Linked DNA regions of Homo sapiens. The protein of the gene in region 1 interacts with the protein of each later gene in a pairwise test. Each region holds a gene or a part of one and is shown in the gene's direction. Other genes may lie near its edges. The genes, in order: TMPRSS2, CMTM7, FAM3C and CNIH3.

What was found.
Region 2: the proteins of TMPRSS2 (region 1) and CMTM7 interact in binary tests that used the Homo sapiens proteins (3 or more experiments, as listed by UniProt).
Region 3: the proteins of TMPRSS2 (region 1) and FAM3C interact in binary tests that used the Homo sapiens proteins (3 or more experiments, as listed by UniProt).
Region 4: the proteins of TMPRSS2 (region 1) and CNIH3 interact in binary tests that used the Homo sapiens proteins (3 or more experiments, as listed by UniProt).

The regions. Positions count from the first base shown.
Region 1 is NC_000021.9:41,462,983-41,470,911, reverse strand, and holds the end of TMPRSS2 (transmembrane protease serine 2), read left to right. Parts: intron 1-168; coding exon 169-264; intron 265-2,373; coding exon 2,374-2,516; intron 2,517-3,025; coding exon 3,026-3,178; intron 3,179-4,758; coding exon 4,759-4,770; coding exon of another isoform or gene 4,771-4,792; 3' UTR 4,793-6,607; downstream 6,608-7,929. UniProt on the Homo sapiens protein: Plasma membrane-anchored serine protease that cleaves at arginine residues. Participates in proteolytic cascades of relevance for the normal physiologic function of the prostate.
Region 2 is NC_000003.12:32,449,792-32,456,542, forward strand, and holds the end of CMTM7 (CKLF-like MARVEL transmembrane domain-containing protein 7), read left to right. Parts: intron 1-2,600; coding exon 2,601-2,682; intron 2,683-4,449; coding exon 4,450-4,463; 3' UTR 4,464-5,737; downstream 5,738-6,751.
Region 3 is NC_000007.14:121,392,299-121,401,071, reverse strand, and holds the start of FAM3C (protein FAM3C precursor), read left to right. Parts: upstream 1-4,763; 5' UTR 4,764-4,910; exon of another isoform or gene 4,911-4,947; intron 4,948-5,050; exon of another isoform or gene 5,051-5,383; intron 5,384-5,600; exon of another isoform or gene 5,601-6,122; intron 6,123-8,144; exon of another isoform or gene 8,145-8,204; intron 8,205-8,773. UniProt on the Homo sapiens protein: May be involved in retinal laminar formation. Promotes epithelial to mesenchymal transition.
Region 4 is NC_000001.11:224,611,852-224,620,309, forward strand, and holds the start of CNIH3 (protein cornichon homolog 3), read left to right. Parts: upstream 1-4,465; 5' UTR 4,466-5,323; coding exon 5,324-5,404; intron 5,405-8,458. UniProt on the Homo sapiens protein: Regulates the trafficking and gating properties of AMPA-selective glutamate receptors (AMPARs).

The DNA.
Region 1 (7,929 bases):
GGAGAGGTCTGGCAGGGGGAGAAAGTGAGAATGTGGGACTTGTTGGGATGCAGGGTCCTCTGGGCAGGGTGGCCAGGGTGCCAGGCCCAGCAGCCTGCATGTGGGAAGGCCAGGTGGAGACATAGGTGATACCCGCCTGGCTCACTGTGTTTTCTCTTCTTGAAACAGACCTAGTGAAACCAGTGTGTCTGCCCAACCCAGGCATGATGCTGCAGCCAGAACAGCTCTGCTGGATTTCCGGGTGGGGGGCCACCGAGGAGAAAGGTGAGGCTGCTCCTGGGCACACAGGACTGCAGGGCCCACAGATGGAGCATTGGGTTCGGAAGTGGGAGGTCCAGGTTTTAATCCCAGTTCTACTACTCAATGACTGGATGACTTTGGTTGATTCCCCCAGTCCTTGTGCCTCAGTTTCTCCATCTGCTAAGTGGGAGAAATCCTGCCCAGCCTACCTAATACACTGTGTTCTTATCGTGATCACACAGAGCAGCATGTGGAATGGCTTTTGAAGTATCTGGGCCATACGAGTTTAGAGGTGCAGGATCTCCTGTGTTGCACTCATTGTGAGTTTAGAGCTGCCCTGGAGATCCCACCAAGGCCTGCGTGGCTGAGTGACAGGGGGCTTGGTGAGGACGGGCATCCTGGACCCATGGTGGCCACATCTAAGCCTGTCCTCTGCCCTGATAACCACAGAGAGAGGCTCTCTCCACCCACTTCCTTTGCAATCTGCATTTCTCTCTGACAGTCTTTCAAATGAAGGGAGCCTGGCTGCTTCATTTTTATGGAGGGTTGGAAGTGCTTAGTGGCAGGCACAAAGGTTCATTTTACATATTGTTTATATCCTTCTCAAAAGCGTCTAGGCCATACAGACAACAAATCCTTTCAAACAAGGGGAAAAGTACAAAGGTTGGGTGATTTCTGGGGAGCGTCAGGGAAGGTAGTGGGGGGCATCCTGGCTCCTCATCAGCAGAAACTTACTACAGTAGAGCCACAGGCTGGGCAAAAGACCTCATGGAATCCAAGATGAAGGGAATATCGACAAATATTTGTGCGCACCTGCACCTAGTACAGGCTGGGTGCTACTCAGGTGCTGGGAATGCAGAAGTGAACAGAGTAAGACAAATGTCTCTGCTGTCAGGAGCTTTACCTCTCTTCTGGATGTCGGTGGTGGGGACGGGGCAGGTGTGGTCAGACAGATGGGAGACAAACAACTGAGCGAGGTACTTCCAAACATCTGAGGGTGGGGATCACAAGGTCCCGGCTATTTTGAAGGGGTGGTCAGGAAAGGCTTCTCGGAAGAGGTGGCATTTGAGCTGAGACTCAAATGGCAAAAATGTGTACACATCAAAAAGGCTAGTGCATGTATCTTCAGGTGTGGTCAAGGGGCCAAGGAGGTGGGCTGGGGCCAGATTGCATAGGTCCTTGTGGATTATGGTGAAGACACCAGCTTCTCATCTGCTTGAGGTGGGGAGATCGTGAGCCGGGGAGTGCCATGATCTGGCAGCTGCGTGGGGAGTGGGGATGAATGGATGGAGACGAGGATGATGGTGACAAGTCCATTGCTGTGGTTCCTTGAGACAGGAAGCCAGCTCATAGCAGAGTGCGGGCGTGGATGTGAAGAGATGAGGGTACACTAGGGCTAGAGCCACCAGACTTACTGATGGGTTGCATGTCTGTGGGAGAGAGAGTGAGAAGTCAGGGACGATGGCTTTCCACTCTGTGGCTGAAGCCCCAGGGTGGCGGGTGGTGCCATTTTTCAAGCCAGGAAATATTGGTTGGTGAGAATTTGGGGTGGGAGAAGGTGTGACGGAGGGTTCTGGTTTTGCACACTAAGCCCACGGTGCCCAGAAGATGCCCGAGGGGAGGCAGCAAAGCGAGAGTGGGAAATGCAGAGGTGGCAAGTGCAGGCCGTGTCTTGAGAAGCTCTAATGTGCAGGGGAGCCGAGAAGCAGGCGGCCTAGGGAGGGTCACGTGTGCTCCAGAAGAGTGTGTGCATGCCAGAGGGGAAACAGGCGCCTGTGTGTCCTGGGTGGGGTTCAGTGAGGAGTGGGAAATTGGTTCAGCAGAACCAAGCCGTTGGGTGAATAAGAGGGGGATTCCATGGCACTGATAGAGCCCTATAGTTTCAGAGCTGGGAATTTCTTTCCCTGAAGCTGAACTCCAGAGCTGCATTCAGCACAGGCACCGCCAGTTGTAAGGAGAATCCAGGTTTCCCAGGAGAGGGGTTGGTGCTGGGATGAGCTGACCGGGGCAGGGCTGGAAAATAGGGCTGTGACCATCTGTGTAGTGCGTGTGGAGGTCTCAGGGAGGGAAGTGTGCTCTCCCTGCGAGAGCTGCAGGCAACACTGGGAGCTCAACAAGTCTCCCTGTCCTTAGGGAAGACCTCAGAAGTGCTGAACGCTGCCAAGGTGCTTCTCATTGAGACACAGAGATGCAACAGCAGATATGTCTATGACAACCTGATCACACCAGCCATGATCTGTGCCGGCTTCCTGCAGGGGAACGTCGATTCTTGCCAGGTAATTCAACATTTTTATTCTACCTTTGGTCCTTACCAGATCCTACTGAACCCCCCATGAGAGAGAGGGCATTCTTGGGGTCAGCAGAGCCTCCTCAGTGACACGGAGCCAGCTCGGGGCAGTCATGGGAAGTGACGGCCACAAACAGTGCGAACGCTTCTGGTGGCAGAAGGAAGTACAGTCAACAAATCACACACACCCTCTGAAAAACCGGTATTTGGTAAAAGTGCCAGTGGAACAGAAACAAGTATTTAGACTATTTTAAATTATGAACGGCAATTTATTTAGTAACTTTTAGCTTGAACAGATTAAAATTCAGGATGGGGGCTATCTCTTTGGGGGTTACATCTCTGTTACCATCACCCCTTGATGGTGGAGATTCGAAGCCCACACAGTCACTCGTAACTCACACTGCGACCCCCGCCCCCCAACTCCTCTAGGCCTGGTCAGTGGTGTGCGGCAGATTGTGACTTGATTTTCTGCTCTCTGTACCTTGCTGTGTCCCACAGGGTGACAGTGGAGGGCCTCTGGTCACTTCGAAGAACAATATCTGGTGGCTGATAGGGGATACAAGCTGGGGTTCTGGCTGTGCCAAAGCTTACAGACCAGGAGTGTACGGGAATGTGATGGTATTCACGGACTGGATTTATCGACAAATGAGGGTAACTATCCTGTCCTCCTTCTGACTGTGTTCTCCGATTCCTCGAGCCAAAGCCAGACATCTGTTAGGCGTGGTTCTGCTGCTGGAAGCTGACTGGTGACCACTGGTCAGCATGAAGCAAACTCTGCTTCCTCCAGCCACAGCCCCATCCCCCCAGTGTCCACCCATTGCCCATTGCCTCTCACTGGCTTCACTTGCATATTTCCCCTGGTGTTTGGATGAAAAGCGCTGGGGCTCAGCTTGTGTGAAATTCCTTGGTGCTCTGCCAACCACACTTCGTTCTGGCTCAGCTGACTCAGCTGTTCCACCCAGGCCACCTCACATCAAACTTTTTTTTTTTTTTTTTGAGATGGAGTCTCACTGTGTCGCCCAGGCTGGAGTGCAGTGGCACAATCTCGACTCACTGCAACCTTTGCCTCCTGGGTTCAAGTGATTCTCCTGCCTCAGCCTCCCAAGTAGCTGGGACTACAGGCATGCGCCACCACGCCCAGCTACTTTTTGTATTTTTAGTAGAGATGGGGTTTCTCCATGTTGGCCAGGCTGGTCTCGAAGCCCTGACCTCAGGTGATTCACCCACCTCAGCCTCCCACAGTGCTGGGATTACAAGTGTGAACCACGGTGCCCGGCCTCACATGAAACTTTTGATTTATAGAGAGCAGAGGGAAGAGCCGGCTGTGCCCATCCTTTTCTGGGGCCATCGAGTGGCTCCTGGGCAGCCCCCAAGGTTAGGAAGGGCAGGAGCAGCCAGGGTTCTCTGATGCCCCAGACTCAAGCACGAGGGAAGGTCTCAGGGGTTCCATGTGAGCCTCATGGATGTCTCTGCTTAGCAGAGCCCTGGCTTTGGGCATTGTCCAGATAGGGGGTGAGAACCAGATCTTCTCATCTCCAGGACCTCAGACGTATAGTTTTCTCAGATTTCTGTGCTTTCTGGGGCTGGGCTACTAGTGGAAGAAAGCAGTCTATTCTGTCTTCTCCCAAATCTCCCAGATGCCCAGTCTGTTGAAGGAGGAGCAGAACCAGGGGGCCTTTCCCGCTGAGGCCCGACCTGTGTCTCCTTCAAATGACACGCGGGACTCAGGGCCTTCCCATGACCATGGGGCCCAGGGGGCGTCACCTGGCCCAGGGCCCAGTGCTAGAAACAGATGACCCCAGGAGGAGGAGGCAGGGCAGGAGGGAAGCTGGCAGGGCTGGGATGGTCAGCCAGGCTGAGGGGCGGACTCGCACCAGGATGGAGCTAGGAAATGATCCAGGTGTGTTTGGCGGCTGCAGGTGGGTCCGCATGGCTGTGCAGGGAGGGAAGGGCTGCGTGGCAGGAGAGCAGCCGGGGGAGGCCCAGACTCTGCTGAAGAGATGCCTGTTGTGCCGGCCTCCACATCCGCTGCCCGCTCCTTCCGGAGCTCCTGCCCCGCCATGCTCAGCCTGACTCTGACCAACACGTTGGAGAGAAGAATGATCCCTTTGTGCTATTAAGCTTGCTTATTTGGTTTCTAAGTGCTTCATGCGAACCTAGAGGAAAAAATTATTTTCCACCTTTGTTTGTCTTAAGAAAATAACACACTTTTTTTTTTCCTATTTGAACAGGCAGACGGCTAATCCACATGGTCTTCGTCCTTGACGTCGTTTTACAAGAAAACAATGGGGCTGGTTTTGCTTCCCCGTGCATGATTTACTCTTAGAGATGATTCAGAGGTCACTTCATTTTTATTAAACAGTGAACTTGTCTGGCTTTGGCACTCTCTGCCATTCTGTGCAGGCTGCAGTGGCTCCCCTGCCCAGCCTGCTCTCCCTAACCCCTTGTCCGCAAGGGGTGATGGCCGGCTGGTTGTGGGCACTGGCGGTCAAGTGTGGAGGAGAGGGGTGGAGGCTGCCCCATTGAGATCTTCCTGCTGAGTCCTTTCCAGGGGCCAATTTTGGATGAGCATGGAGCTGTCACCTCTCAGCTGCTGGATGACTTGAGATGAAAAAGGAGAGACATGGAAAGGGAGACAGCCAGGTGGCACCTGCAGCGGCTGCCCTCTGGGGCCACTTGGTAGTGTCCCCAGCCTACCTCTCCACAAGGGGATTTTGCTGATGGGTTCTTAGAGCCTTAGCAGCCCTGGATGGTGGCCAGAAATAAAGGGACCAGCCCTTCATGGGTGGTGACGTGGTAGTCACTTGTAAGGGGAACAGAAACATTTTTGTTCTTATGGGGTGAGAATATAGACAGTGCCCTTGGTGCGAGGGAAGCAATTGAAAAGGAACTTGCCCTGAGCACTCCTGGTGCAGGTCTCCACCTGCACATTGGGTGGGGCTCCTGGGAGGGAGACTCAGCCTTCCTCCTCATCCTCCCTGACCCTGCTCCTAGCACCCTGGAGAGTGCACATGCCCCTTGGTCCTGGCAGGGCGCCAAGTCTGGCACCATGTTGGCCTCTTCAGGCCTGCTAGTCACTGGAAATTGAGGTCCATGGGGGAAATCAAGGATGCTCAGTTTAAGGTACACTGTTTCCATGTTATGTTTCTACACATTGCTACCTCAGTGCTCCTGGAAACTTAGCTTTTGATGTCTCCAAGTAGTCCACCTTCATTTAACTCTTTGAAACTGTATCATCTTTGCCAAGTAAGAGTGGTGGCCTATTTCAGCTGCTTTGACAAAATGACTGGCTCCTGACTTAACGTTCTATAAATGAATGTGCTGAAGCAAAGTGCCCATGGTGGCGGCGAAGAAGAGAAAGATGTGTTTTGTTTTGGACTCTCTGTGGTCCCTTCCAATGCTGTGGGTTTCCAACCAGGGGAAGGGTCCCTTTTGCATTGCCAAGTGCCATAACCATGAGCACTACTCTACCATGGTTCTGCCTCCTGGCCAAGCAGGCTGGTTTGCAAGAATGAAATGAATGATTCTACAGCTAGGACTTAACCTTGAAATGGAAAGTCATGCAATCCCATTTGCAGGATCTGTCTGTGCACATGCCTCTGTAGAGAGCAGCATTCCCAGGGACCTTGGAAACAGTTGGCACTGTAAGGTGCTTGCTCCCCAAGACACATCCTAAAAGGTGTTGTAATGGTGAAAACGTCTTCCTTCTTTATTGCCCCTTCTTATTTATGTGAACAACTGTTTGTCTTTTTTTGTATCTTTTTTAAACTGTAAAGTTCAATTGTGAAAATGAATATCATGCAAATAAATTATGCAATTTTTTTTTCAAAGTAACTACTGCATCTTTGAAGTTCTGCCTGGTGAGTAGGACCAGCCTCCATTTCCTTATAAGGGGGTGATGTTGAGGCTGCTGGTCAGAGGACCAAAGGTGAGGCAAGGCCAGACTTGGTGCTCCTGTGGTTGGTGCCCTCAGTTCCTGCAGCCTGTCCTGTTGGAGAGGTCCCTCAAATGACTCCTTCTTATTATTCTATTAGTCTGTTTCCATGCTCCTAATAAAGACATACCCAAGACTGCAATTTACAAAAGAAAGAAGTTTATTGGATTTACAATTCCACATGGCTGGGGAGGCCTCACAATCATGGCAGAAAGCAAGGAAGAGCAAATCACATCTTACATGGATGGCAGCAGGCAGGGAGAGAGTTTGTGCACAGAAACTCCCATTTTTTAAACCATCAGATCTTGTGAGACCCATTCACTATCACAAAAACAGCACAGGAAAGACCCACCCCCATGATTCAATTATCTCCTATCAGGTCCCTCCCACAACACATGGGAATTATGGGAGCTACAAGATGAGATTTGGGTGGGGACACAGAGCCAAACCATATCATTCTGCCCCTGCACCCCCCAAATCTCGTATCTTTACATTTCAAAACCAATCAGGTCTTCCCAACAGTCCCCCAAAATCTTAACTCATTTCAGCATTAAGTCAAAAGTCTACAGTCCAAAGTCTCATCCAACACAAGGCAAGTTGCTTCCACCTATGAGCCTGTGAAATCAAGAGCAAGTTAATTACTTCCTAGATACAACGGGGGTACAGGCATTGGGTGAATACAGCCATTCCAAATGGGAGAAATTGGCCAAAATAAAGGGGCTGCAGGCCCCTTAAAAGTCCAAAATCCAGCAGGGCAGTCAAATCTTAAAGCACCAAAATGACCTCCTTTGACTCCATCTGTCATATCCAGGTCACACTGATGCAAGAGGTGGGTTCCCATGGTCTGGGGCAGCTCCACCTCTGTGACTTCGCAAGGTATAGCTTCCTTCCTGGCTGCATCATGGGCTGGTGTTGAGGGTCTGCAGCTTTTCCAGGCACATGGTGCAAGCTGTTGGTGGATCTACCATTCTGGGGTCTGGAGAATGGTGGCCCTCTTCTCACAGCTCCACTAGGCAGTGCCCCAGTAGGGACTGTGTAGGGGCTCCAACCCCACATTTCCCTTCTGCACTGCCCTAGCAGAGGTTCTCCATAAGGGCCCCACCCTGCAGCAAACTTCTGCCTGGGCATCTATGCGTTTCCATACATCTTCTGAAATCTAGGCAGAAGTTCCCAAATCTCAATCCTTGACTTCTGTGCACTGGCAGGCTCAACATCACATGGAAGCTGCCAAGGCTTAAGGCTTGCAACCTCTGAAGCCACAGCCCAAGCTCTATTTTGGCCCCTTTCAGCCATGGCTGGAGTGGCTAGGATGCAGGGCATCAAGTCTCTAGGCTGCATACAGCACAAGGACCCTGGGCCTGGCCCATGAAACCACTTTTTCTTCCTAGGCCTCTGGGCCTGTTATGGGAGGGGCTTCTGTGAAAACCTCTGACATGCCCTGGAGACACTTTCTCCATTGTCTTGGGGA
Region 2 (6,751 bases), on another chromosome or scaffold:
TTACAGGCACTACTGAAATCAGGGGGCCAGGCGGGTTTTAATTCACACACCCACTCTGATCATTTGCTCGTTGGCTGCCTCAGCACTATGCAGAGACAGATGCTGGAGCCTCTTTTGGGCCCAGTGGGAAATGTACTGTGATCAATTAGAGATACATGCCATGAGCCTGAGCTTTGCCATTCCTGATTTTTAACAGTATTCAGGCCAGGAAATAATACTCCTGTATCTTTCAGAGGCAAAAATTGATCCATCTGATAGCCATAAATAGAAGTAGATGGAAATATACAAAAATACAGTCCTGTGAGATATATACATACATATATATGTATATACATACAGATGTATATGCTATTTTTTTAAAGATTCATAGATTCCTGTCATCTGATTTCTGATTTAGCTAACTATTTATAGTTCAGTGGCCTGTGGGCCAACACTGATTTGCTTCACTGATGAGCAGACAAGATTTTAAAAATGAGTTTTGAGAAAAGCTCTCTCAAGCCAGATGTGGTAGCTAGCATGCACCTGTAGTCCCAGGCACTCGGCAGGAATGCTTGTGCCCAGGAGTTCGGTCTGGCCTGGGCAACGTACTGAGACCCTGTGTCTTAAAAAAAGAAAAAGAGAAAAAGAAAAGCTCTCTCTGTATGTGACATTCATTGTCTTTCACTTACGTATATTACCAAAATTTTCCAGACTTTGGCCTGGGAGTGGGTTGGCTCCTGGAATTCCACTGAGGGATGGAGTCTCTCCTCTGAAGGTCAGCATGGGGGCAGAAGGTCACTGTAGAGGGTGGCCAAACCTCCCAACACTGATGCTCCACATGGCCCTCCCACAGCCCACCATCACACCTCTCTGCCCCCTCTCTCTGCTGTCTCTGAAGAGAGGGATGGTTGCCCCCTGAAGCTTAACACCTGCCCAGCTACAGTGCAGGGTACTGGAAGAGGCACACAGGAGACCTGTGCCCACTGTGTTTCCGGGCCCACTTGAGGAGATTCCCACTGTGTTTAGTAATTCAGGTTGCACATAACTGTTTAGCCCTGGAATCTCTATAGCTAACATTCATCATATGCTGTCTGTGTGCCTAGGACCAAACCTGGGCTATGAGGAAGTTAGAAGAAATTTTTAAAATATGGTCCCTGCTTATAAGAAAGTGGTCATCTAGCTTAGGAGACAAGACACATGAAACAATTAGTAAACAAGGCGTTGTAGTCTAGAATAGCATTCTGTAGCGATATAATAAACTGTTCAATTATGCAGTGCAGACAGTTGGGGACCGGGATGGTATATAACGTGCTAATTGTGCAGAACAGACAATGAGAGGCCGGGACAGGCTCTAATAGGCTAATTATGTGCTGTAGACAATTGGTACAAAAGGAGCCCAGGAAAAGAAACCCGGGGAAGAAGTGGATGTGGGCTGGTGGGGGCAGCTGTTTATGTAAAGCAGCATCTGGGCTTGAAAAGAAAACCAAACCTTGTTGAAAATCCTACCCTTAGCTGCCCCTGCGCCATTCTCACTGGACACCAGTGGCGGTGTAGTGAAGTGGAGGCCTTTGTGTGGGTCTGAGAACACCTAGGCACCCGGTACTGCAGAGTGCGGACTCTGGAGCCAGGCTCCCTGGGCTCCCATCCCATATCTGGCCCTTGCTGGCTCTGTGGCCTTCGGCAAAACAGATGACCGCCTGTACCTCTGTTTCTTTAGCTGTGAAATGGAGGAGCAGGGTGGGTAATCCTAGCACCCACCCAGCAGAGTTGTGAGGGTTAAAGGAATCAATACACCCACAGGGCCTCACACCCTGGTAGGGATGTAGTAAAGTGGTCAGTAAGTTTTCACCACTGCAGCTGCCGGTGTTGTTCACAAGCAAGGAAAATGGCTGCAGGCTTCAAAGCCCAGAGATTCCAGAAGAAGCTACTGCCTCTTCCTCGACCATTTGATGAGCCTCCCACAGGCACTCTTCGTCTCCCAGCACCCGAATCTCATCTACAAGTGAGGGGGCTGGGCTAGGTCAGCCTTCCTCACACTTGAGCGCTGGATGACCCTGAGAAAGGGAAAGGGTGCTGCCTTGACTTAGTTGAGTCTAATATTGTTTAATATGTACAAACGTAAACCTAGATGTAAAGGCCTCGGCTTCTGGCTCTAATACGGCTATGAAGCCAGAATGGAACAGAAAGTCATTACAAATGAAATGCGAACAACGCCACTACACCACAAATCATGGGAACGTTCAGATTTTTTTAACCCAAATTAAAATTTCATCCTTTTCTTCTCTTTTGGTCCAGGATAATCAAAGTCCATTGGCTTAGCCCCAGCTTGCTTGTAAATGTAAACCCAGACCAGGCACTGAAGCTGCCAAGAGTGAAGACCGAGAGGCCTGGCTGCCAGCCCTGACCTGGCCCAACCTGGAGGACTGGGGCCAGTGGCTGGGCCTCGCGGGGCTTCCTCTCTGCACCTGATCCAGGATGAGGTGGTTGGGTTAGATGACTCTCCAAGCTCCTTTCTGGCCAGAGACATGAAGGGAACAAGCACAGAGATGAGAAGCAGACAGGATTGCCCGAGTAATTAGCCCTATGGCCTGTGAACTTCCTCTCCCCTCTCTCCACTGCAGATCTTTGGTTTCATGGCCACCTTCCTCTGCATGGCAAGCATATGGCTGTCCTATAAGATCTCGTGTGTAACCCAGTCCACAGGTGAGTTCTGGTTATCTGTGCACAGAGGATCTCTCAGGAACAGGGGGATGGCTTGTTCTTGACTTCAGCCATAGGGACAAACCCTGCTGTTGAGAAGGCTGTGTTCCAAGGGGACTTTAGAAGTAGTATTAGAGCACAGGGGCCAGCAAAGGGGAAGATGTGACCCCAGAATCTCCCCTCACATTCCCATCTCCACACATCCAAGGATGCCCTAACATTTCAGCCTCGGGTGGCCAAGCTTTTTTCTCTTTCTTGCTTCCTTTCTTTCTTTTTCTTTACTTTTCTTTTTTTTTTTTTGAGATTGGGTTTTGCCCTGTTGTCCAGGCTGGTGCAGTGGTACGATCAGAGCTCACTGCAGCCTCCGCCTCCCAGGCTCAAGTGATCCTCCAACCTCAGCCTCCTGAGTACCTGGGACTACAGGTGTGCACCACCATGCCTAATTTCAATTTTTTTTTTTTTTTTTTTTTTTTTTTTTTTTTTAGAGTTGGAGTCTCACCATGTTGCCCAGGCTGGTCTCAAACTCCTGGGCTCAAGCAGTCCTCCCACCTCAGCCTCTGAAAGTGCTGGGATTATAGACATGAACCACCGCACCCAGCCAGCTTTTTCTTAAGTTTCCTAATGACAAAAATAAAATGTAGGTTTTTAGAAAATACAGATAAAAAATATGTTTAATAGAAACCGTCTGAACCAGGGACAGTGGTGTGTACCCATAGTACCAGCTACTCAGGTGGCTGAGGCAAGAGGATCACCTGAGCCCAGGAGTTTGAGACCAATCTGAGCAACATAGTCAGACTCCGTCTCTTAAAAAATAAAATAAAATAAGAAAAAGCCATCTGTCATCACACTACCCAGAAGTAGCACTGAGTATCCTTTCGATATTTTCTCTCTGAAAATATATATATCTGTTGCTTTTATTAAAAGGATCAAACTTCATGTGCTGTTTCATAATATGTTTTTTCTCCTACTTAGCCACTGACCAAACATTTTCCCAACATCATTAGGAATTCTTAGCAACTCCGTGGGTTGCAGCATTAAGTCCATCGCATGACTGTGCAGTTTATTTAACTTGCCTCCTCTTTGAGGGCATTACTCATGGAATCCTACACTGAGCCCATGTAGTGTAGGATTCCACTAATAAGAATCGTCTAGAGCAGGCAGATTCATAGAGACACAAGGTAGACCCATGGCGGCCTGGGGCTGCTGGGAGAGGACTCAGGTGTGACTGCTAATGAGGATGAGGCTTCTTTTTGAGGTGATGAAAAGGCTCTAAAATTGTGGTTGCACAGTCCTGTGAATATACTGAAAAACACTTTAGATGGGAGAATTGTATGGTATGTGAATTATTAAAATATCCCAGTAAAGCTGTTTAAGAAAAAAAAGAATGATTTTTAAACGTAGAGAATATAGGGGAAAAGAGAAGTTAATAGGTGGTGTCTAACAGGATAAATCTATAAATATTGGTATAAATTGGTTTTTTGAATTATGGAAGAATCACCAAAAGAAATGGCTAAAAGGCTTGGGAGGTTGCTGCTGAGGAGTAAGACTGAGGTCGGGGGAGTGCGGATGGGAGTCACCTCTGCACTACCGAAGTTTTTTCCTTGTTTGGAAATGTATTTTTAAAAAATGGAATAATCTCAGTGCAAGTCGGCACTGGGTGGAGGACACAGGTGCCCCCCTGAGCAGAACTTGGAGTCAAACCTGTGGAGTGTGGCTTGTGGGTGGGCCACATCCCTGGCAAGCTGTCCTGACTGCCATTTCCTTCCCAAGATGCAGCCGTCTGATGAGGCCACAACCCCTAGGCCCCTCAGGAGCTTTGCAGAGAGGAGGACGTGTACTCCAGGCGAGGCCTCTGGACCTGTGTTCCTGTGCCAAAGTCCTGTCAGGCTGGTGGGCACCAGGAAAGGCCTGCACCCTCTTCCTGCTCTCCCAGGAAGCCAGCTCCCTGAGCTCCTGAGCCAGCCGGAAACTCTTCCTCCAGCCTTCCGGGGAGAACATCCCTCCCATTCTGGGAAAGGAAAGCAGCCTCCAGGGAAATGTTTTCTGCCTTCCTGCTTCTAGAACCACCTCAGGTACTGATGAACCCCACTTAGCACAGCTGAAGGGGTTTGTGAATACTCCCGCCTAAATCCCTTCTACTTCACTCCTCAGGGGAGTGAAGTGCCTTAAGAAACAAAGCCCTGTCCTAATTTATCTAGCTTGTCAGTCCGGTCTTAGAGATACCCTCTTTCCTGAAGTGAGGCGTGCCTGTAGAAACACTATGTGGTCAGCCTGTCCCCAAGGAGATCTTGTGTCTCCTCTCCATCTCTGCCTTTGTTACCAGTGTGCATGTGTTTGTGTGTTTTTTAATAAAATATTGACTCGGCCAGTTGCACAAGGATTTCTTATTGAACCAGATGAAGGCTGTAAAACCTGGCCTGAAACAGTTTCCATTCGAGCTTGTGTCTGGCCCATGGCCCTCCACCCGTGCTCTGTGTGTGCCCCTTGCTGAACTGCTGGACTTCAGGTTTTCTCTCCATCTTGGGGGATAGTATAGCAGGGCAGAGTTTTAGGTAAACATGTGCAGGTTCTCAATTATATTCACGTCCTCCTTCTCCTGCAATACCAATCTTCTCATTTTGGAAAGAGCTTTAGAGCAAGCTAAGGGTTGTGTTTACACTATGATGATTAATGATCTCGGCCTAAATGTGCTGTTTCGCTGATCTTGAGCTGCTCAGTTGGCTAGAAAAAGGAGGGATGGAACAATGTTTGAGCAACCCCGTGTGCAAGGACCTACATTCACAACCACATCTAATAGCGATGGTAGTGACTGCAAGGGGGCAGGTTATAGGACCACATTTTTAGAAATGAAATCGGGGCTCCATCCCCAGGCACAGGGCAAGCCAGTGAGGAGCTGGGCTCAGGATCTAGGTCTGCCTGACTCCCAGCCCCATCCTTGCCTCTGCTGAGTGTTGCCGGAAATGGAAGCAGCCCCTGTGGGCTTTGAGCTGGAGCTCTGGGGCTACTCTTGTGGCTGCTGGCCAGCTCGGGGCATCGGGTTCTGTCTGGGATGATCTAAGGAAGCAGCACCCGTGGTGTATCTGGAGCCGAGTGCTGCTGATGGGAGGGGATCCTGTGTACCAGCTGGGCTGGAGCGGGAACATGGCTGAGCTGACCCTGGCACAGTCGGCTCCTCCAGGGCAATGGAATGGAGGAGTCTCAGCTGAGGAGGGCACGGTCCAGGTGAGGCATTGGGTCTGGGAGCCCCCTGCCTGTGTAGTGACAATGCAGGCCTCGCCAAGCAACGAGGATCCGGGTTTGACCATTTGAGCATCCCCCTAGGAGGGCAAAGGTGGGTGGAGGACAGTTGGAGGAATAGTAGCAGGAGCCAGAGTCTGCTCAGTGAGGAAGGAAAGCAAAACGCAGAGCCAAGTGAGGCCTCCACAGACAGCGAGCAGTGGACCATGCAGCCAGTGGCTTGGCTGAGGGGTGGCTGTTTGAGACCACAGGGCCTTTTTAGAAACTGGGGTTTCTGTGACCTCCCAAAAACTGTCTGGTAAAACCATCCCTTCTAAATGGCCACATCTCCAGCACCAGGGAGTAAATGTTTAAGCAAAGAGCTAAGGATGGTGGAAAGACAGTCAGGCTGGGAGCCGCAGACGTGGGGTTGAGCCCAGCTCTGCCATTGACTAGCCCCCGACTTGGCACGGGTCATCTTGCTGAACCTTAGTTCCCCCTTTGTATAACGGAGAGAATAAGCCCATCCTGGCCTGTCTGTGACCTCCTTGGAATTCAGTAACAGAGCAGCGTGCTTACTTATCGTTATCTTTCTAATCTTAATCCCCAGAGAGGTACCAGAATGACAGGAAATGAGCAGGTTAATGTTGCAAAAGTGATCGAATCACCTGGGTGCAAGGGAGCTGGAGAACATAATTTACTTTCAGTTTCCTGGACCTTAAATTTTGTTAAAGTCAAGATTGGAAGCTGAGGGCAGTTTTCAGCCGGGCGCTGGGACCCATGGTGGACAGAGGGCATGATGAAACACCTGTAGGGAACTGGGTGGGTGAACGCATCCCCAGCAGCCGGCTCTGAG
Region 3 (8,773 bases), on another chromosome or scaffold:
TGTTGCTAATGTATCAAATACAGTGCCATGAAATCTGTGCGCACTCCAGCTTTTTGAACTGTACTATTTTGCCCTTACAGGCAAGGATGAAGTTTAAGGGTTTTAAATTCACATTTTTATAAAAACTCTGAATAATAATTTTCAAATGACACTTAGATGTGGTATTTTAACCTGTATAGGTATAAAATTTGACACGTTTACTTTCAGTTTTATTATTTTACCTCTCTTTTTCTCTCTCTTCTGCTATATTCTTTAGAAGCTAGGCAAGTTTCTGGCCATCTTGCCACAGGTTTGAGTTTATAATCCAATATAAACATGCTTGAATATTTTAAAGTAATCCTACCCCCAGAGTTGGTCAACTCTTTTCCCCCTACAAATGTTTTCTTCCCTGATTCAGTTATTTATTGCTGTGTAACAAACTACCACAATACTTAGTAAATTTTTTTAAGTATGTTATTTCTCAAGTTTCTGTGGGTTTGTTGGTCTAAGCTGGGCAGTTATGCTCCATGTGGTACTGTCTGGAGTTACTCATGTGATATACTCAGGTAGGAGCTTAGCTGGAGCTAGAACATGCAACACGACTTTACTCATATAGCTGGTGCCTTGGGGAAGTGGTTGGGATGGTGTGGATGGAGAGAGAGAGCTAGGCCTCTCTCTGCATGTAGTTTCTCATTATTCAGTAGTTGTCTGAGTTTCCTATATGGTGACTAGATCCTGAAGCTAGTGAAAATGGAAGCTGCAAGGTCTCTTAGGGTCTAAGCCCATAAGTCACATAAGATCTCCTCCATGCATTCTATGGGTCAGAATAAGTCCCGGGGCCAGCCTAGGTTCAAGAGAAGAGGACATAGATTGACCTCTTGATGGTAAAAAACAAAGTGGCATGAACTTACAGGAATGGGGGAATTGTTGGTAGCCATATTTGCCTATAATTTACTACTCCATATACAGAAAAATGATACCAAGTGGACTCTTCTTCTTGAGGGTGGGTGCAATTAAAATTCTGAGGCTTTTTGGAAATTTTGTATTTAACAATATTATCTAATTCTTATATATACATTTTTTATATATTCTTATATAGTTACAGTAATATAAAGCAGGTTATAGTTTTATATAAAATATGGCACCTATTGAGAGAATGAACATTCCTTTCTTTTAATCATGATTTGTGGTTTTGTTTTTAAGCCTTATGATCACATATAATTTTAAAATTTGTGTATATCTCCTCTACTTTAATCATTTTAAGTTGGCAAAAGCACCATTCCCAATCACAAATACACAGCAGTTCTACGATTTTCTGTTTCTGAATGGCTTTTTTTTTTTTTTTTTTGAGACAGAGTCTCACTCTGTGGCCCAGGCTGGAGTGCAGTGGTGCGATCTCAGCTCACTGCAAGCTCTGCCTCCCGGGTTCACGTCATTCTCCTGCCTCAGCCTCCCCAGTAGCTGGGACTACAGGTGCCCGCCACTACGCCCGGCTAATTTTTTGTATTTTTAGTAGAGACGAGTTTCACCGTGTTAGCCAGGATGGTCTCAATCTCCTGACCTCATGATCTACCACGCCCAGCCTCTGAATGGCTGTTTAAAGACAATCCTAAATTATAACTTAGTTTGACTTAGATTGTAAATAATTCAAGAGTGAAGTTTAACTTGCTACTATTTTAAAAGCATATTATCTTACAGATCATCTATAAAATGTGAGAAGTGTTAAATAATCTTTATTTGATATTACACATACACCACACTAAAATGCCTTTCAATAAGTAAAAGGAACTATTTTAAATACAGGGAATTCTAATTAGATTGACATAGTTAAGGCCAAAAATATAAAGTAGACATTGCTACCTTATCTTCAACCCTTGCCTTTAAGAGGCAAATGAACACAAAACACAGGTGAATCTTGCTTGGTTCTGAGATAGTGAAGGAATTTCTCCAGTATTTAAATATATTCACATAACCAGTTATATAAATCCAAATATAAAACCAATCTCCAATATGTTTTAAGATGGCATTCACCATCTTTGTGAAAAGCTGAACATTACTAACAAAGTCTAATCAAATCATGTCTTTAGAAAGGGTAAACAGTGATAGCATTTACTGAATTGGATTACTATTAAAATTCAAAAAAACTGAACATATTCATTTAACTGCAAGCCAGTCTTAGTTTTACATCAGGACTGCCCAACAAAATATTCTGTCAGTTATTCATGATCTGAATTCTGGTGTGTGAGGTCTATTAAATTATGGTACACATAAAAAAGTCATAAGACATTTCTGTTTTGTAATAAATAAGGCAGTGGCCAATTATTATTCATTAGTAGCTTTTTTGAGATAAGCTATCAAGTCTGCTCTTTCTGCCTTCTTCTTAATGCTGGCAAAGATCACTTTGTTCCAGAGATGTGCTTCTTGGGATTCTCCAAATACTCCATCAGTGTATCCTCTCCCCAGGTGATGCCTTTGTTCTTAATGGCATCTGTGTAAAATAATCCAACGGCTTGACCTGTCTTCCATCCGAAGAGACCATGGAGATTAGGCCCAGTCCTGTGCTTGCCTGCCTTTTCCACAGTGTGGCACTGGGCACACTTCTGAATACAAATCTTCTTGCCTTTCTCAACATCATCCATATTTAATCCTCTCTTTTGTTGCTTGTGCTATGAAGGATGACACTCAGAAGCTGGATGTCACACTCTCTGTATATTCTTTTCGAGTCAACAAAAAAGTTGGGCTTTGAAGTTGAGCACGTGAGTTTGAATCTTAGCTCTGTCTGGTCATAGCAGAAGGACCTTGAGCAAGTTTCACTTTTCTCCGCTGTATTTATAGGATTATTGTGAGAATTAAATAAGTCTATATATATAAAGTGCTTAGAAAAGTGCCTGGTGCACAATAAGCACACAATAAATATCAGCTTTAGAAATATACATTATCAGTAGCTATTATTATATAATATAAATTATCGGTAGTTATTGTAATAGCCAACACCTTTGGCTTATACCTCCTGGAGCTGTAAAGCTCTGTGGTTTTATTAAGCTTAATCATTAATCCTGAATACTTCTCCTGGCTCCCCTACCTCCTGCCAAGTAAAAGTAGGAAGTTATCCTTACTCGTTTATAGGTGTAAGAACTGGCTGATTAACAGGAGTCCTAAAGAAGTGATTTACCAATGTTAAAAAAATTGAAACCCATATTAAGAAATATAATTTCTACTGTATCCAGGACATAGACACACAGACACTCACCCACACATGATGCTGTACAAATGTTTCATGAAGAATACTTATCCTGAATTTATGCTTTGAACTGTTTTTTTTTTCTATTTTTCAGTGAATCAACAGCAACAAAATGTTGGTTGTGACCCATTGTTATTAATTTCATTACCTACCAAAGGGTTCTAAGCTATATCTTATGGTCAGTGGAGAATAGGCTACTAACACATTAAACTTTATGCACAGGAATTGTTTCAGGTGTGGTGCTATAAGAATATGTCACATGTAATTTCCAATCTGGTTGGCTCGGTTACAGAGCAGATTGCTCTTTCAGAAATACACCGTGACCTCCCTACTCAAGAGGCTTCATAAACTCTTTCAGTGAGACATAGCAGTCTAGGAGAGGCATGTGTACAGTAAGTGTTATGATTTTTTGGTACTATAATAAGCAAAGTGCCTTTTTGTTTATTTGGAGCTACATGAAGCTAGGCCGGAATTCCAGCTTCATAACTTACTATCTTGTATTTTTGAGCAAGATATTTAAACTCAGTTTTGGAGTCTTAGTTTTTTGATTTAAGTAATACACAAATAGCATAATATTGGCACATGGAAGACAATGAGAATTCATTTCATGCTTTCTCCCCTGATCACGGATCACAAACTCCAGAATTCATAGTTACTATTAGTTTGTGTGTTTTATATTTTTGGAGGAAAGCTAAAATTTGGTAGATTATTAATTCTATATTAACACACTATAGTCAAACCCTATTTTTAAATGCAATTTAATTTCTGCAACCACTGATGATCCCAATATTCTGTCAAATACTAGGTAACAGTTATTCATTATTTTAGAATATGGATCTGAATTATGAAATAATTTTGCATTCTAAGGTCTTATGTAGTAAGATTTGGATTAACTTCCCAATTATCAACACAATTGTAGGAAATCTCCTGAGAAAAAATATTTCTAACGATTGTGTATCTTATAATTTAAAAAATAAACGTGACTTGGAAAATGCAAGGACTACTGTTCTTCTTGGGTGGTGCATTAAAGGTGATCAGAATTCTAATGACGCTGGACAGTAGGATTTTCAGAATCAGTTTCCTAGGGTTCAAGAAGTCAAACGGCAAATAACCCAAGGTCCTTGGTTGATCTGACCATCTCAGCTATCTCAAGATATATAAGATGACCTAACTGGCGCATCTCTAGGATGGGTGGGTCATTTAAAATGTTCTGCCCTTGAGGCTGGGATTTTGTGCGTGTAAACGGTGGGGAGACGGCGGTGACACATTTTTCTCCCTCCCGTAGTGCCACCCGGCGCAGGGCCGCTGCGGCGGCGGCAGCTCCCACGTGGCAAGTTCAGATTGTGCAGCGCCTGGCCGGGGGCGGTGGGCGGGACCGCAGACCCCTCCCTCCGCTCTCCGGCCCTTCCCTCTGGCCGGCCCGGGCGCCCGCTTGGTCCTCCACCGCCAGGGGGCGGGCGCGGCTTCCCGGCGGCGGGGGCCCATTGGTCGCGGCCGGGAAGCGTGGGAGGAGGCCCAGCGGCGAGCTGGCTTTCTCCTGGCCACTTGCCGGGGTGAGGGGCAGCCGGAGGAGTCCGAGAGGAAGCGGAGGCGCGAGCTGGAGGCGGCGGCTCCCGTCGGCCTCCGGCAGGACTGAGCGCTGGGAGGCCGGAAGGCGGGCGCGCGCGGCGGAGAGGCGGGCGGGAGGCCGGTGAGACGGCTGGGAGGCGGACGGAGCCGGGGCTCAGGTTCGGGGAGGGATGGAGGAGGCCGGGGAAGCCAGACGCCCACCTACGACTTCAGCCTCCGCGCACTGCGGTCACCGGCCGGGGGCGGGCCCCGGGCCCGGCCGCGTTGTCACGGCGTGTCCGGACGTTGGAGAGGGCGCAGGCGGGACTGGGGTCCCGGAGAGCCGCTGGCCGGGGTTCCCGGCCGCCGCCCCGGCGTGGGCATCCCCGGGCTCCGCGGAGACGGGGCGGCGTCTGCACCTGGCGCTGGCACTCGGCGCCCCGGCCTGGGGCGGGCACCTGGGTCGCATCTTCCCCAGGTTGGCTGTGGCTCGCGCCCCTGCAGCGTGTAGGCTGAGAGCTCCGAGAGGTGGGGACGGAGTTGGGTGTTGCATTCCAACTCCATAGGGGGCCGTTTTGACTCACTTGTAAAGTTTTAGTGTCGCCTATACTAGAGGTACTTTTGGTTTTTTACAAGCTATCCAGCCCTTTGATGTTTGGTGTCTCTTCTTTTTCTTCCTATTTGTTTGCTACTGCTCTCACAGCTCGGGACCACGGATGATGATTAGTGGCCCTAGATCTGAATATGTGAGTGACGGATTGGCAATTTGAGATTGAGAGCTCCAGCTGTTTTACTTGTGGGAGGAGCGGTTTCCATCATCCTCTACCTTTTTTTTTTTTAAGAAAAAATATTATTGCCTGTAATATAGAACTGCTATCTAATTGATAGGACTTTTCCTTTGTTTCTTTTTGGCCAACATGGTGAAACCTCGTCTCTACTAAAAAATAAAAAAATTAGCCAGGTGTATGTATCCATATATATATATGTATGTATGTATCCATATATATGTATGTATCCATATATATGTATGTATCCATATATATGTATGTATCCATATATATGTATGTATGTATCCATATATATGTATGTATCCGTATATATGTATGTATCCATGTATCCATATATATGTATGTATCCATATATATATGGATACAATGACATAAATAATATTAGATTGCTTACTGTGTACTAGGCACTGCCAAATGGTTTCGTGTGCTCATTTATTCTCACAACAGCTCAGTGAATAAGTCCCTTTATCTTTTCTAGTTTTACAGATGGAAATATGAACTCCCGAGAGTAAAGGTCAATGCTGATAGCAGAGGCCCCGACCCCTTGGACTTGTGGCCAATTTGCAGTTACGTTTTCTTAAGTCTTGGGAACCGTTACTATTAGTCATACAGTATCTTACAGAGTACCAGCAGATCTCTATTGAATTTAGAAAATAAAAGTTAATCACTTACTGAAAGCCATTTAACAAGAAATTGGCAGAATCAGCAAATCAGCATCCGGTTTTGGTCACTTCATCGACCTGTACCTCTTTCTAGAGGCTACTAGTAGTCTCTTGTGTTTCTTGGCTGTTTACCAATAAAGTCACAAGGTTTTCAGTTTTATACAGGTATTAGAAGCTTTGTTTCACAGATTCTTGTAATGTTTTCTCAACTCAATAAAGACTAGCATTTCTTCATAGGAAGAAATAAGAAGAGTTGGAGCCAATAAAAGGAGTTCAGTCCAGCAGTTCTCAACCTGAGGACCTCTCTGAATTACCAATGGGAACTTTGTAAGAGGGACACAGGACAGGTTCCTCAAAATCCTCATTGTAAGGGGCTTCTGTTTCAAAAGGGAGTAAAAATAAGACACTACTGGCTTAAAGTGACTTTAAAAATAAACTTAATGGATGTTTTATTACAATTACAGATTTTTAATGTGGATTGCTGCCTTAAGCATTGTCAACTAATCTTTCATAATTTATGAAGATACATTAAAAAGGAAAAGGAAATTGGAAAAGACAGCCAAAAGGCTAAGAGGCTATGGAATGGCAAAAAGTAATGTTCCCTGAGGGGGTATCAGAAGACTCATATATTTTCCACCATATATTTTAGGTTTTGAACGATTCATTTTTCAAAAATTTTTATACTCTTAAAAATACTGGAGTGCCTACCATGTACCAGTAATTGTAGATATCATGGATACTATGAATAAGACAGCCTGGGCACTCACAAAGCTACTTTATTTTCTCTAAAGCAGGGAATCTTTTTTATTTTTATTTTTATGCCCATTTCTTAAAGCTGAAAGGTGCAAGACCCAAATAGCAAAAGATTTTTATGTTAGCGCTGAGCTAGATAGATTTTTGTGCGACCTTGGTATAATAGCAAAAGTTTGTCTTGAATTTAGTCCAGAAGCGTCTCTGTTCTTGGGATCAGATGATCAGGATTTGAAGCATTGATTCTGTATTTAGTTATTTCAAGAGTGGCATTGACTAAATTACTTAATATCATGCAGTCCTTTTTAATCTGATTGAGTAGACTGAACCAGGTAATTTCCCAAAATCTTTGAACTTTTAAAAGGTTTTGTACTTTCTTTTAATGCAATTCTTTGAGACACAATCGGCTGACTTCCTCTCAGAGGAGGAAATTAAGTGTTGTAATACCCCTAAGTCTTTCCAGTGTACCCATTAATATTCTTTTTCTTCTTCATTGGCCTGCTCCATTTGATTGAAGCTATTCTTATATTTCCCTTATTTTTAATCTAATTTTGAAAATCCGCTATTCATGATTTTTCTAACTTCAGTGAGTTTTTTCTTCCAATTTTCTTTTTTAAATTAAATTCCTGTAACAGAATTTTTCATTTTATTTTTAAATTATTTACAAAGACAGGGTACCCCACTGTTCTGCAGACTGGAGTGCAGTGGTGTGATCATAACTCACTGTAGCCTTGAACTCCACCTTAGCCTGTGGAGTAGCTAGGTTTACAGGCATGTGCCACCACACACGACTAATTTTATAATTTTTTTTCTTAAAAGACGGGATCTTACTATTTTGCACAGGCTGGCCAAATCTGCCCTCAGGTGATCCTTCGACCTCAGCCTCCCAAAGCTCTGGGATTACAGACATGAGCCCCTATGCCTAGCCAGATTTTCCATTTTAAAGTGTGGCATTTAGCACGTTCATGATGTTATGAACCGTCACGTTTCTAAAACATTTTCATCACCCCAAAAGGAAACCCCATATTCATTAAGCAGTTGTTCATTCCCTTCTCCCTGCCAATCCTCGGCAACCACTGATCTGCTTTCTGCCCCCATAAATTTATCTATTCTGGATTTTCCTAAAAATTGAATAATTCAATATGTGTTCTTTTGTGTCTGGCTTCTTTCACTTAGCATGTTTTAGAGGTTCGTCCTCTAAATCAGCAGGTATCAGTACTTCATTCCTTTTTAAGGGTGAGTAATATTCCATTCTATATTCCATTCATATACACCACATTACATATATATCATTTCGTTGATACGTACTGCATTTTGTTTATTCATTTGTTAAATTTTTGTGTGCTATTCAGAAAGTTATATGAACATCTCTAAATTGATTTTCGTCATAATCTCTACAAGGCTTGCTAAGGTAGTGTTATGGTGTCAGGTGTGCTACCTAACATATCATTCATTACTTGCAGTTAAGTGATTGTTAAATGAGTTTTGAAAGACGCAAGGTCAACAAAAATGGATTTTTAAGTTGGTTCAGTTGATACGTGGTGTGGTTTGGTTCTGCGTCCCCACTCAAATCTCATCTCAAATTGTAATCCCTGTGTGTCGAGGGAGGGAAGTGATTGCATCATGAGGGCGGCTTCCCCCATGTTGTTCTCGTGACAGTGAGTTCTTACAAGATCTGATGGTTTTACAAATGGAAGTTTTTCCTGCACTCTCTCTCTTCTCTCTCCTGCTGCCTTGTGAAAAAGGTGTCTGTTTCCCCTTAGCCTTCCTCCATGATTGTAAGTTTCCTGACACCTCCCCAGCCA
Region 4 (8,458 bases), on another chromosome or scaffold:
GACTAGAAACCTTGTGGATCCCTGACAGCGCCCAGAACTATGGACACTAAAATATTTTGAAATAACGAGCAGTAACTGCCTGGGGTTCTTATTTTCTGAAGTTTTGCAGTAACCTTTGCCGAGATATTGTTCTGTAACTAATAAAACAAGGCAAAGCAGGACCAGGTAAATGGCAAGAAAAACAGTGGCTGGATGGAGACTTGAAAGTCACAGTGGTAGGATAATGGATTCCATTTTTAAATTTGAAATTTTATTTTGATGTAGAGACTCTTGGTTCTGGTGATGCTGTGCTAGTGAATTCAGACCGGTTCTCCCACTGAGCACAACTTATAAAGCTGAATGAAATACAGTAACATCTTCTTGAAAGCATCAAAGACCTAATAAGAGAGTACGGAATTACTGGGGTCAAAAGCTGAGAGTGATTCAGAATCTAGAGGGGTTGGTTTAGCTCTTGGGGCCAGTTTTTTTTTCTAGGGGCATTTCTTAATCTTGAGGAGGTGGCTGAGGTATGCTTTTAGGGGCATTTCTTAATCTTGAGGAGGAGACTGAGCTATGCCTTTAGTACTCTGTGGCGCTAGGGGCAAAAGTCAGAGTCCAAGGACCATCAAGGGTTGGGACTTGATAAGCCCTGTGTTTTGACTTGGGATCCAGAAGGACAGCTCCATGTGAGTAAGGCTGAACCAGAAATAAAGCAGCCCTCACACAGACCACAGTTATCTTGGTCATCCTGGAAAATCTCAAATGCTGAATTTGGATTAAGGTAATCCTGGAGCACTAGGTTCCCCTAGATACCTGGCAAAAGAAGTTGAAAATCCTCCCTGGAGAAAGATAACATAATTTTAGGCCTCAAATGACTGTAAGAAAACTTTTCAAAACAAGTTTGGCACAGTAAAAATCTACTAGATGGATAAGAAGCGAGGACTCCGTAAACAAGAACCAGCAGAAACAAAAGATCAGAGAGGTCCCAAAGGGACTCAGAATTTTGGTGTCACGAAATTTTATACAGTACAATTACTACAATGAAAAGAAATGATCTATATAAAATAAAAAGCAAAAAAACAGCTAGAAAGAAATACACCAGGATTGTGTTGGTGGTATCTGAGAGCAGCAAACTGTGGTGTTTATCTTTTTCATTTTTATATTTTCCAAATTATTTTATATTTTTGAGACAGGCTCTCGCTTTGTCACCCGAGGTGGGGTGCAGTGGCATGATCACAGCTCACTGTGCCTTGACCTCTTGGGCTCAAGCAATCCTCTGGCCTCAGCCTCCTGAGTAGCTGAGACTACAGGTGTGCACCACCATGCCTGGCTAATTTTATTTTCATTTTTGTAGAGACCGGGTCTTAATTATGTTGCCCAAGATGATCGCGAACTCCTGACCTCAAGTGATCCACCCGCCTCAGCCTCCCAAAGTGCTGAGATTACAGGCATGAGCCACAGTGCCTGACCTCCAAATTTTCTTTAATGACAATTTATACTGGAAGAAATACTTCTGTAAAAGAGAAAGCAACATAGGGTATAACCCAGAGCAGGGCTAGATTTGTAGGCATTCAACTTCTACAGCTGTCCAGGGTCTTGTGCTCAGAAGGGCCTCATGCTTGGCTTAATGTTCTGCTGTTGCTGTCTTGAAATTATTAATTTTTAATCAAGAAGCTTGATATAGTTTGGGTTATTTGTCCCTGCCCAAATCTCATGTTGAAATGTCATCCCCAGTGTTGGAGGTGGGGCCTGGTGGGAGGTGTCTGGGTCATGGGGGTGGATCCCTCATGGCTTGGTGCTGTCCTCGCAATAAAGAGAGTGTTCTCACAAGATCTGGTTATTTACACGTGTGTGGCACTTCTCCACAACACTCTCTTGCTCTTGCTTTTGCCATGTGACATGCCTGCTCCTGCTTCACCTTCTACCATGAATAAAAGCAACCCTGAGGCCTCCCCCGAAGCCGAGCAAATGCTGGTGCCGTGCTTGTACAGCCTGCAGAACGGTGAGCCAATTGAACCTGTTTTCTTTATAAAGTACCCAGCCTCAGGTTTTTGTTTTTTTTTTTTGAGACAGGGTCTGGCTCTATTGCCTAGGCTGGAGTGCAGTGGTATGAACACAGCTCACTGCACCCTTGACCTCCTGGGCTCAAGCAACACTCTCACCTTAGCCCTGCAAGAAGCTGGGACTACAGGTGCATGCCACCACACCCGGCTAATTTTTGTATTTTTTGTAGAGATGGGGTTTCTGCCATGTTGTCCAGGCTGGTCTCAAATACCTAAGCTCAGGTGATCTGCCCACCTCGACCTCCCCAAGTACTGGGATTACAGGCATAAACCACCATGCCTGGCCAGGTATTTCTTTATAGCAATGCAAGAACGGCCTAATACAAAGTCCCACATTTTCATTTTGCACTTGGCCCTCCAAAGTATGTAGCCGGTCCTGACCCAGAGGCAATAAAATGTAGATCGGTTCATTGCTCTGGTCATCAGCCTCTGGATTTGCTCTAATTTCTCCACTTCTCACTGAAAGGCATCTAGTTTCTAAACTGGAGGGAGATATGAGGCCAGGCACTGTGGTGCACACCTATAATCCCAGCGCTTTGGGAGGCCAAGGCTGGAAGACTGCTTGAGGCCAGGAGTTTGGGACCAGCCTGGCCATATATTGAGACCTATGTCTGCAAACAAAACAAAACAAAAATTATCTGGGTGTGGTGGTGCATGCCTGTAGTCCTAGCAAGGAGTTTGAGGCTACAGTGAGCTATGATAGCACCACTGCACTCCAGCCTGGGCAACACAGCAAGACTGTCTTCAAAAAAATAAAATAAAATAAATTGAAGGGCCTGGAGCGGTGGCTCACGCCTGTAATCCCAGCACTTTGGGAGGCCGAGGTGGGTAGATCACGAGGTCAAGAGATCGAGACCATCTTGGCCAACATGGTGAAACCCCGTCTTTACTAAAAATACAAAGATTAGCTGGGCGTGGTGGTGCGTGCCTGTAGTCCCAGCTACTCGGGAGGCTAAGGCAGGAGAATCGCTTGAACCAGGGAGGTGGAGGTTGCAGAGATCACGCCACTGCACTCCAGCCTGGCGACAAAGTGAGACTCCGTCAAATAAATAAATAAATAAATAAATAAATAAATAAATAAATAAGTAAAAGATGTGGCCAAATAGCTGCAGGAATGTTGGGGCATAGTAGAAAGAGCCCAGGATTAGGAGTCCGCAGACAGGATTCCAGTTCTGTCACTAGAAAGCTGTATCTCTATCTTGCTGGAATTCATCCCTTCCAGCTCTCAAGGCATTGGAATCACATCTGTGAACAGGAAAACTAGCACACCAGAGTCAGAATCAAGCAATAGTTATTTATCTAGTTCCCACCCTGTGCAAGGTACCAGGTGCTCTAAGATTCACTCCAATCCATGAAGTGCGTCTACTCTTTCACCGAGATTTGCCAGTCGTCTTTCAGGGTATTTTTCCTTGCTTTCTGGATTTGATGACTTGTCTGAAACTGAAGTTCTCTCTGGAATGACTGGACCTCTTTCACTGCAGCGTCAGGAATCTCTTGCAAAGCAAGCATGGTGAACTTCCAAGATGCTGGGCCACTGGGGGAAAGGGTGCAATTAATAATCCCTACCACTTATTGAACGTATACCAAGTGCTAGGTTTTTTACTTATGTTCCCTTTTAATCCTTTGAAATGGCTTGACTCTACTCTTATTTATGTTTTTCTGATAAGGAAACTAAGGATTAAAGAGGTTAGGTAACTTGCAGCTAGAAAACGGTCTACCTTCAAAAGCATCCTCTTGACAATTCCACTAGGACCAACACCAATACCACCGAGCCCTCGTTGCTGCCTCTTCAGCGCAGAATAGCCCACCAAGTCCACGTTTCCCTAGTCCCAAGGTCGGATGGCTGGGGAGGGTAGAGGATGCAACGGAAGGACGTTAATGGAGAATTTTGCAGGGTCTGGGAGCAGAGCAGTAAACGCAGCCCTAAGCACTGAGTATGCTACAGTTTGGTAAAATCCATCCAAGCAGCTTTGGGATCCAAGGCTTGCACTGTATCCCCAACCAACACTAGGCAACGCCCCAAGTCCCCACACTTCCCACTCCGATAGGCGAAACTGCAAGAACCGGGAGGGGCGGCTGCGGCGTTTAGGCGCGAGGCACACACCATACCCTTCCGCAGCTTCCCACCTCCTCCAGACGCACGTGTTTAAAGAGTCCCTGCTCCAACCGGTCCCGCCCCACCTCCGCTCGGCCTCCAGCCCTGCTTGTACTGCTGGCTTCAAGTTTCCTCCGAGAGGCGGGCGTGCACAGCTGCAGTGGCGGCGGCAGCGGCCACCAAGCGCCCGGCGGCGCTTCGCCACCCACCTTTCCTCAGCCCCCGGCGCTGCAGTCTCCGCCCGCCGGGGAGGGCGCGCTCAGCGGAACAGGAGTCGAGGGTGGGGCGCCGAGAGGAGGGAATCCCGGGTCGCACCGCTACAGTTCTCGCAGTGGCAAAGGCGGCGGCGGCGGCGGCGGCAGCGGCAGCAGCAGGTGGAGCGAGCTACAGCGTTTGGCCTGAAACCCACTGCTGCAGCCACCCGGGCTGGAGTTGGCCCGTTGGGTGGAGCCAGTGCTCGCCCCGGTCCGACCCCCGGTTTCCGGGACACTTGGGTTGCGGAGGCCGGCTGGCCGGAGTCACGGTTGGGGACGGGCGCGCCTCGGAGCGCACGGCTGCGCTGGAAGCCGCGTCTGGGGCGCAGGACCAACGGGACCTACCTCCTCCCGGCTACCTAAAGACTCCTTCTCTCGGGAAAGAGCGCTGCCCGGCTCTGGGATTTGGGAGGAGCTCGGAGGCCGCTCGGGCACCTCGCTGGACACTATCCGTTTGCGCCCCGGTGGCGCGGGAGGGTCCGGAGCGGAGCGCTCGTCTCTCCTCAGCGGTTTAGTGGAGAAAAGCAGAGAGCTCTTCCTGGGGCGAATGGGACCTCCTCCCTCGGTCCTCCGTGGAGTCGTCGCATCGCTTGTCGTGTTGGTCTCGAGGGGCTCACAGCTTGGCACTAATTTGCAGGTGTTCGCTGCTGATTTGGTTTCTTCTTCGATTTGCGGACGGTTCCCTCCAGCGACTCTCGACACACGTTTTCCTGTCTTCGCCGGAGGGCCGGGTCTGGGGTCGCCGGAGCCTGCGGGAATCCAGCGCTTATTCGCTGACCCTCGAGTCGCTTCGCTAGCTGTGCGCCCTCCTGGGCACTAGCCTGGAGAGGAGCGTGCAGACGCGGCTCCTTGGAGGGAGTGCGGTCCTCTAGGGAGGCATCGGGCTCCTAGGGGCTTCTTGGCGTGTGTGGTGGGATTGGGGTCCGCCGGCCATGGCCTTCACTTTCGCTGCGTTCTGCTACATGCTGTCTCTGGTGCTGTGCGCTGCGCTCATCTTCTTCGCCATCTGGCACGTGAGTAACACGCTTTGGTCTCTCTTCTTTCGCCCCAATTTCGCTAAATTTCCCCGATTTCACCCCACTTTTTCCACCTTGCGGGCGTGGGCGAACCGGAAGGTTGGACCTTCTGCCGCTCCACTGTCCCGGGGCAGGAGGCAGTTCGCTGCATCCCGCCGGGCGCGCCTTCGGTGCCCTGGCTGGAGGCGAGGGGCCGCTGGTGCCCAGGTAGGACACCCTCTGCAGGGCCCGACTGGGCGTCCCGGGTCCCGGGCGCCGGGGAGTGGCGGCTACAACCACAACTAACCCCTTCCTCTCCCGCCCCGTCCTCTCCTGCCGGCGGGAGGCGAAGGAGAAGCGCCGCCGTCGGTCCCGGCAATTAGTCAAGTAGCTATAATAACTAAACATTTAAAATGTCAGCATCTGTGGTGGGTTGCATTTAGATATAATTGGAGACAAAGTGGAAACACGACGGGAGCGCCTTGTAAGAGGTAGGGAGAAGCCGAGCCCACGGAGAGGAAGGAGACCAGGCGATGGGGGTCGAAGTGGAAGGCGGTGGGGGAAAGGCGAGAAGGAGAAGAGCAAGGAGGCGAGGGAGACTGGGAAGGGCAGGCATCATTAAGGCCATGGAGGAAAGTCACGAAGAGAGACCGTGGAGAGCGACGACGGTGTCCTCCATCTGCCCTCTTGGCGTCTGAAGTCCGACTCCTGAAGACCCCCTGCAGGTGGCGAACCTCCGCTAGGCCCCCAGCGTCCCCAGCCCACACAAGCTTCCTGTCACCCTTCCCGGGGCTACGCCAGGTGGAGGGCAGCCGTGGATCCCAGTTCTTTAGGTGTGGGTGGGAATAGAGGAGCGCAAGCTTCTGAATAGGGGAAGAGAAGTACTGAGAGAGCGCGCAGGAGTGCGTACGCCGGTCCTCTCAAAGACTGTGCAACATTTAGCGAGTGCATGCAACTCTCAAGGCTTCCTTCTCTGAGGTTGTTTAAGCCCCCTATCCTCACCCTCAGAGGGCTGGTGGGAAGAATGGCCAAGGCCAAATGTTTAGAAGGAGCACCCCAGTGCATAATTTCCCACCTTTAACAGCCTTGCCCTGCCCAGCGTCTAGGTGACAGAGAAGGACCCTGAGACGAATTCTTGGAGGCATGGTTCTGGTGAGCATCACAGACTCTCATACAGTGGGGATGACCCAAAATGAAGACGTGGAGAAAATTGCAGGGTGGGTGAGATGCCCTTGTTTTCTATAAGTGGTTTGCAGAGTGAGAGTTTGTCTTAAAATAGAACTAAGCAGCTAGAGCAGCTCCTGCTACAGGGCTCTGACAGAGAGGAGAGGGGAAACTCGGGGAGGAAGGTGGCTTCCGATCATGTAACCTTAGGAAAGACCCTTGCTGGCTTCCTTCCACATCTCTAAAGTGAGAAAATTGACCTGGATAGTCGCTAAGCTTTCCCCCATTTCTCAGATTGTGTAAATCCGTGCATCAGTAGACTTAGGAATCTGGGGGTGACAGGGAATCCAAACATAGATATTTGGGGGATGATTAAAACAATTCCGCTATTTAGAAGTAATGGGATTTTAAACCCTCCCTTCTCTGCTCTGCAAGGCTGGGTCTAATCTATAGTAGAAAATTGAGGCTTGAAGTTGTTGACAGTTCTTAAGGGAAAAGGAAACTTACCTGATTTAGAATAGAAAGGAATACAGATTAGATCATGCCCAAGCAGTGCAGCAAACCTCTGCTAATGTGCTTTAAAGGAACTTTCTCAGCTTCTTTGGATATGGGGAGTTACTTGGATTCTAGAAGGCCAACTACTCCCTTTTCTTCTGCAATACTTCATTTGCTGTTTTCTGTTTTTGCCTTGGCCAGAGGGTGTCAGGTACCAGAGAGCTCCCTCAAACTCGAGTCTGGCTTGGAGTTCTCTGAATTGGTCCCTGAAGCAGAGCAAGTAACCAGAAAGAATCATTTTCTCTCATTCAGGGAAAGATGATTAATAATTCAAGAACAGCTTCATTGAGTGGTTTGTGCAGCTGGTTGACATTTGAATGAAAATCAGGTGTTCCCTCATCCAGCACTGGCTCTATCCTCCAGCTTCTCAATGCTCACCCCCTTATCGAGGGGTGGCTGAAATGCAGTCAAATTCCAACTCAGGTTTTATCCAGATTCCTCGTGGAAGTGGCAAGATTCTTGTTTCTAATAATGAAAAGAATTTGTGCGTTTTGATTTCAAATTACGGTAATAATTTCATAGTCTCAGTCCCTCCTTTCCTAGTCTTTTCCTTCTCTATCCCTTTCCCTCTCTCCAAATCAAACAACCCAAACCCCATCACACTGATTTGGTTCCTGAACATTGAACTGGGAAACCAGAGACACCCTGATTTCAGGGCACGGTTTGTATGTCTGGGTGTTAGTTACATGGTAGTAATTATTTCAACCAAAATTGAGGAGACTTGGTTTTATGTTAGACTGTTTGCCTTCTTTCCAGCTTCTTATATTACTTATGTACTTCTTGATCGGACAAGGCATATTGATTGTGTGATATATATCAGTACCCCAAAAAATGAATTGGGCGCTTAACAACATATAGCGGTTAAAATGCCTGCCATGCTGCCATGCCTAGGCTGTAAGATATGAAGATGGCGTGCTTTTCTTATTGAATTGTACGTACCTACTTAGGGGTAATGATGGTAGCTACTATGTATTGGGTGTCTGCTGTAGGACAAGTTTTAAGTACTTTACAGAGGATCTCTCAGTCCAATCGTTTTCCTCCCCTTTTTTCCCACTGGATGTCTGGGAGCAAGGATGGATGTGGCCAGCCTTTCTTTCAAGTCTTGTTTTTTACTTTGAAAATTTATCTGCATTTGTTTTCAGTTGAAAATATTTCAAGTTACCCATTTATTTTATATCAGCTACTATCTCTGAGTACATTTATCACATTTGGAAGAAGCAGAAGAAAACTAGGTTTTTTCTGTGGCTTTGCATACCCTCAGGCACCTGGCCTCTTACTGCCCAGGCAGCCCTTTAGTCCTCATAACGGACATTTCGCAGATGAGGAAACTGGATCAGAGAGATTACAAGGTTG